Linked DNA regions of Homo sapiens. The protein of the gene in region 1 purifies or fractionates together with the protein of each later gene. This does not show direct contact. Each region holds a gene or a part of one and is shown in the gene's direction. Other genes may lie near its edges.

Region 1 (3,500 bases):
TGTTGCCTCCTCCGAACTGTTTTTATGGTTTGCCATTGTGTCTGCAGCACCTCAGCACACTGATCAGCAGGTAGTAGGCATTTAATAAATGTCAACTCAATGAATGAATGATTGGTAAAACCAATATGAGGAAATAAAGACTTGAAGGTAGATTTTAAAGTGTGAATTAATTCATCATCATAGCAGTGTTTAATGGGGAAAGTCCTACTGGGTTGACAACTTTTTAAAACTCAAAAGAAGTAGAAGCAATGGAGTCATGGGCCAGAAGATTGAGGAGAAGAGTAGTGACAAAAAAGACACATATGGTAATGTTTGGTGACAATCTTATTATTACCAATAGTGACTGATTATCATTAATAAAAATATATTACTTCCCTGCTTTCAACACCTTCTGTATCTGGTATTTACATTGAAATAGCCAAATAGAAGTTTAAGGATGAAAAATATTAAACCTATTTATATAGGTACGTCTCCTTGGAACATTGGCCAAGTAGAATAGTTTTCTTTTGGTGCTTCTTCCACATTTAGCCCTAGTTATTCAGATTGGATAGATAGTATTTGTAGCCATTTTTTAAATGACTGTGTAGATTAAAAAAATATGTGTGTAAGCTTGGTGTCATGGCTTACGCCTGTAATTCTAGCATTTTGGGAAGCTGAGGCAGGAGGATCAGTTGAGGCCGGGAGTTCAAGACCAGCCTGGGCAACATAGCAAGACTGTGTGTCAATTAAAAACAAAAAAAAAAATTTTAGAAAAAAAAAATGTGTTAACTAATCTGGGGAACAAGCTACCCTATGGATAAATCTTTTTTTTTTTTTTTTTTTTGAGGCAGGATCTTGCTCTGTTCACCTAGGCTGGAGTGCAGCGGCGTGATCACTGCTCACTGCAACCTCGACCTCCCAGGCTGAAGTGATCCCCCCACCTCAGCCTCCCAAGTAGCTGGGACTACAGGTGTGTGCCACTACACCTGGCTAACTTTTTAATTTCTTTGTAGAGACGAGGTCTCACTCTGTTGCCCAGACGGGTCTTGAACTCCTGGGCCCAGGCAGTCCTCCCGCCTCAGCCTGCCAAAGTGCTGAGATTATAGGTGTGAGCCACTGCACCCAGCCAAACAATTCTATTTTTGTAGAATAATCAATTTCCTTTTAGCCTAAATTTAATTAGACACCATTTAACGTGGCATTTGTTTTATGAAATCAATTTATGCTGTCTCTTTTCTAACAAAGCAAATAAACTCTAAACATGGGGTTATTATGTTCATCCAGGAGCATTTCATACTACTGAAGCTGAAGCTAGTTCTCAGAGTTTGACTCAGATATATGCCTTACCTGAAATTCCTCAAGATCAAAATGCTGCAGAATCGTGGGAAACCTTAGAAGCGGTATGTTAAAAAATGTTTTCTTTTTGGTAGTTGTGAGGCATAAAAGTAACTTCCTCTCCCTTTCTTTTAAAGGACTTAATTGAACTTAGCCAACTGGTCACTGACTTCTCTCTCCTAGTGAATGTAAGTATATAACTGTTTTGGATGCAGAATTGTTGGATTATTAGAATGAGAAGCTTTTATAATCACTAGGCTTTTAATTAGAATTTTAATAGAACTTATAATTTTTAAGACTGGTATTAAGCCATAGATAGAAGTTTAACTGTTCTCAAATTCCAGATTAATTCAAGAAACTTTTATTAAGCACTTGTTATATACAAGCAGTGTGTTAGATGCTTAACATTGAGAGTGTGGTCAGGTTGGATATAGAAATAAATGAAGCCCATTCTCTGCCTTTGAAGATTCTTGTTTTTTGTGTTTTTTTTTTTTGAGACGGAGTCTCACTCTGTCGCCCAGGCTGGAATGCAGTGGCACAGTCTTGGCTCACTGCAACCTCCGCCTCCCAGATTCAAGCGATTTGCCTCCCTCAGCCTCCTGAGTAGCTGGGATTACAGGCACGTGCCACCATGCCCAGCTAGTTTTTGTATTTTTAGTGAAGACGGGGTTTCACCATGTTGGTCAGGCTGGTCTCAAACTCCTGACCTCATGATCCACCCGCCTCAGCCTCCCAAAGTTCTGGGATTACAGGCATGAGCCACCACGCCCTGCTGCCTTTGAGCATTCTACAGTGAGTGGAGATAGGCCTGGACCCCAGAAACTGAGCTTTCAAGCATGATGGCTAAATGCAAAAGCAAGAATGAAGAGAGGTATTATCAGCTCCAAGGAAAAGCATTTAATTCCAAAGGAAGGAGGCAGGAGTCATAAGGTAGAAAGAAGCATTAAGGATAGCTTCACACAGGTAGACAGTATTTGTATGAGCCTTGAAAAATGAGTAAATATCCACTGGGGGAAGTTATGGAGTATATTTGAGAAGCTGAACAAAGACATGGAGTAGAGAAGTGTATGGCCTGTTCCAGATTGACAAGTACTGCAGTATAACCAAAGCATAAGGTACCATGGGCAAGCAAGGAGGGTGAGGGCCAGATTGTGATGGCTTTGAATGCCATGCTAAAGAATTTGAACTTTACTTTGTGGGCATTAGAAAGCCTAATACTGATTCTTGAGCAGGTTAGAGTCATGCAATTCAGTCTGTGCTTCAGAAAGATCACTGTTGGCTTTGTGAATAATGGCCTAAGAGAGGAGGAGGTCATGGAAAGGAAGACTGGTTAGGAATCAATTGCAAGAGTTCACCTGGAGCAATGGCAATACCAGTGTAAAGGTAAAGGACAGCTGAGAGATATTTCTGGGGGACTTAACAGAAATTGGAGGAAGATGGAGCCAAAGATAAGGAACATTGTCTTTATTCTGCATAATTGGGTGTCAGTGATACTGTTAACATAGATTAGGAAGCACAAAGTCAATTTGTTGGGAAAGATAGATTTTCCACCATTTTTCTAAATTGTTCTTTTTGTCTTTCTCAGGAGTTATGGGAAGGTAGGATGTATGAATACGTGTGTATGTATATTTATGTATGTGTGTCCACACAGGCATACCTGTTTCTGCTTGCAGTTCTGTCTAGGTTTAGTTCTTTGTTTCTGATCTAACCATGATTTTGGGGTTATCTTTGAGTTACGGTTTCCCTGAGATCTAATTTTAAATGAGAAGTTCCTAGATCACACAATCAGAATTGGAATGAGAAAGGACTCAAGAGGCCAACTAATCTAATCCCTCTACTCTTGCCCCAATTTCTAAAATAAATGGTCTTTTAGCCTCTTTTGGAACAATTACAGCACAAGGATATTGATACTTAAACTATTGCATTTGGAGGGTCTAACTCTTAGAAGGGTTAGAGTTAAAAGTGTCTGCCCTATAATAACTTCTTTTTGGCATTTTTGGCCTCTAAAGCTACGTACTGAACAAATTTTGCCTTCTTTCCATATGAAAGTCTTTCAAGGTTTTGAAACCATCATCTTTCCTCACTCTATCCCACCCCACCATATTTTCTTCTCTTCAGAACCCTTGCTTCTTTTGCATTCCTTCTACAATATAATTTCTAGGCTTCTCAATACTGGCTTCTTACTA
Region 2 (3,500 bases), on another chromosome or scaffold:
TTACATTTTTGCTATTGAAGAACAGGATCTTTTTAGATGGTTGTTTCTGAAATTCATGGGATAGAGTTCCATTTTGCATATCATCTCAGCCTGTCATCCTGCCTGTTTTCTTCCTTCCACCTATTGTTTAGACATTTCTTTGTCCATTGACACCTTTCTCAGGGGGTAACCGGTGGGAAGGAGAAGGCAAGGAAGAACAGAGGTGAAAAACCAATGTGTACCTCTTACTACTTTATAAGAAGATATTATGGAAAATTTAGATGAAATTATATTTTTTGGTAGTTTTCCTTCATAGACAAATTCTGTATTTATTTAATAAATAGCACAATTCCAAGCTTTTTATGGGAAAATATAGTAGCCACTCACAATCAACTCATAATCTATGTGGAGACTTGAGGTAGGTATGAAGAAACAATTAGAAGATAATAATTGAAACAACAGACAATTAAATACTAGATTGTTGAATATAGAGCTAGTACTATCGGAATTGAGAAGAAAAGAAGTTTGGGGTTAGAGAAATGGGTCTTGAGCCTGCCTTTCAGGTCAACAAGCATGTGTTGAGTGTCTCCTGTGGGCCAGGTGCTCTGCTGGAGCATTTACCTTTAAGACCCCAGATCAATAGGGTCTTAAAAGTAAATGCTCTAGAGACAGATATGGGAAGAAGCAAGAGGGAAAGAAGTAATAAGGCATTTGTTTGATTAGAGGGTCTACCTTGGGGAATATTGAGAAATAAAATCCAAGTAGCAAGATGAGTTCAGTTGAAAGAGAGCTTTGAGATCAGCGAATTCACTCATTCAATTAAAAATATTATCAAATGCATATTATGTGCTAGGCTCAGGGTTACAATTATAAGCAAAGGGGGTAGGGTGGGGGAAGACATTTTCTGCCCTTATGGAATTACAACTATGTTAAATGTAAAGGAAAGTGACATTGTGCTAAAAGATCCTACAATAGTAGGACTTGACTTAGAGGAAAGGCTTCTATGAGAAAGTCATGATTCAGATCTGGAAAATAAGTAGATATTAATAAGGCAAAATGTATGGAGGTAAGGGAGCCAGTAGAACATTCTAATAAAAGAAATGACAAATGGAAAGGCCTCATGGTGGAGGAAGCATAATGAAAAATGAGGATGTGGGGGCCAGATCATGCAGGACCTTTTTGGCAATGTTTAAGGAATTTTGGCTTTAGCTTAAGAGTAAGGGGAAGCCATTGAAGAGTTCTGGGCATGAGCTCTTGAAGAGTTAGTATCAGGATCATGAAAAGATCCCTGTAAGATCTTCTTATTCTGGAGAATAAGAAGGGCTCAAAAGATATTTAGGAGTTGAAACTTAAGGGACTTGGTATAATATCTTGGTGTGAGGAAAGGAAGATAGCAAGGATGACACTCAAGTTCCTAACTTGGAAAACAGACAGTGGCGCCATTCCTTGCAAGAGGATCAGGTTTTAGGTTGTTTGTTTGTTTGTTTGTTTCCTTTTCTTTTGGGGGAGTGGGGGGAGGTTTATGAGTTTGGTTTTACATGTATTGAGTTTGAGATGTCTTTGAGCCATGTAAGACATGTGGAGAGGTCAAGTAAGTCATTAGCGGTGTAAATATACTTTGAGTTACTTGGATGTATTTTCTTGACTAACTGGTAGAACGCCTAATTGTTTACAACTCTGATCAGAGATGTCTAGAAGGAGCTCTTTTAATACAAAGCTGGAGCATTGTTGACTTGTCAGCTCTGCTATTGCAGAGCAAGACAGGAAAACCAATAGCATAAGAACTAAAATCTATATAAAAACGAAGAATATTGTCATATATTTTGTGAAACAGACAAATGAACAAGAAATAAAGAAAACAGAAAAATATATATAAAGGCCTATTGTGTCTTACTATGAAAGTAATGCTTAACTTCTTCACTAAATGAGCCTTCTCTGAGACTTCCTTTATATTACCACTTTCTCTAATATTCACCCCAGTAACAGCCATTCCAAATGTGAAACTTAAGTGATAAGAAGAGCTCACTGGTTGGGTTACCTCAAATAAAATAAAAATAATGTGAGCATCTTACACAATCCAGGTTGAAAGCCAAGTTTTACCTCCTGTGAAGTCTTTTGCGTTACAAACTTGGTATCTTTGCCCTTTAAGCCTCAACCTCACGTAGTATCTTTTCTGGACAACAGTCTATTTTTGGTTGGCCTTGGGAAAAGGAACTGATAAACATATTCTTTAAAAATGTGGTTCATTTCACTTTCCTAAGTTAGGCAGTGTAGCAGGGTATTAAGGAGCCAGGATATAGGGATTCAAATCCTGCTTTTGTCACTTATTCTCGATAAGATTTGAGGCAAGTTTCCTAACCTGTCTTTCTCATTTTACTTATCTGTTAAATGGGGGATACGTATAGTACCTATTGCAGAGAGCTTTTAAAAGGGTTAAAGTAGTTAATACACATTAAGCCTTTTGAATAGCAAGTGTTCGATAAATATTATTAAAACTAAAATTTGAAGTTTTTATAGAAATCAATATTATGTAAGTGATGCAATCTTATTTTATTAAACCAAAATTGAAATTTAACTGCAGTATATCAGGAAGAATCTAAATATTACTTACAGTGAAGAAGATGCTGGTCAGAACGTAATTACACTCAGGTATGAATGAATGATGGAATTGCAGGTATGTTTTACTAAATGGTATAGCTCATGAGTCTCACACCCAGGTGAATTCCCTAGTGCTATAGGATTTGATTCATTTATGGTCTCCCATTATTTATACTGTATTTGTTCTTCATTGATTTTATTCTTTGCAGTCGGATACTTCTGGAGACTATGAAATCACACTCTTAAAAATCTGTGGTGGAGATGACTGAACCAAGAAGATAATCTCCAAAGGTCCACGATGGGCTTTCCCAACAGCTCCACCTTACTTCTTCTCATACTATTTAAGAGAACAAGCAAATATAAACAGCAACTTGTGTTCCTAACAGGAATTTTCATTGTTCTATAACAACAACAACAAAAGCGATTATTATTTTAGAGCATCTCATTTATAATGTAGCAGCTCATAAATGAAATTGAAAATGGTATTAAAGATCTGCAACTACTATCCAACTTATATTTCTGCTTTCAAAGTTAAGAATCTTTATAGTTCTACTCCATTAAATATAAAGCAAGATAATAAAAATTGTTGCTTTTGTTAAAAGTAATTTCTTTGTTTGCTTTCAGAGCTTGCCAACATTGTTTGATGCCTGGTGCCAACAACTAATATTTTAAAACATGTTTCTGTATAGAAGCTGTTACTGCTTCAGTTTATCACCTTGTTAATCACACTTTTTTGAAAGAAAGGAATAAGATGAAGATGTATGTGACCCTGGCCTACCCTTTGTAGTTGTGATCAAGCTATAGGAGTGGTAATGCATGATAAGTTATTTCAGCTTTCAGAAAACATCTGCTGAAGGATTAATCTAACCACTTCCTGTCTGAATGGCAAGCATGAATTATGGTTGCTTCATGCTAAATACTAC

The links. Proteins that work in one complex are often made in the same cells at the same time.
Region 2: the proteins of STX17 (region 1) and ANXA3 purify together in Homo sapiens (affinity purification with mass spectrometry; one large-scale study listed by BioGRID and IntAct). This does not show direct contact.

Annotation. Positions count from the first base shown.
Region 1 is NC_000009.12:99,958,654-99,962,153, forward strand, and holds part of STX17 (syntaxin-17), read left to right. Parts: intron 1-1,263; coding exon 1,264-1,379; intron 1,380-1,451; coding exon 1,452-1,502; intron 1,503-3,500. UniProt on the Homo sapiens protein: SNAREs, soluble N-ethylmaleimide-sensitive factor-attachment protein receptors, are essential proteins for fusion of cellular membranes.
Region 2 is NC_000004.12:78,607,270-78,610,769, forward strand, and holds the end of ANXA3 (annexin A3), read left to right. Parts: intron 1-2,786; coding exon 2,787-2,846; 3' UTR 2,847-3,178; downstream 3,179-3,500. UniProt on the Homo sapiens protein: Inhibitor of phospholipase A2, also possesses anti-coagulant properties. Also cleaves the cyclic bond of inositol 1,2-cyclic phosphate to form inositol 1-phosphate.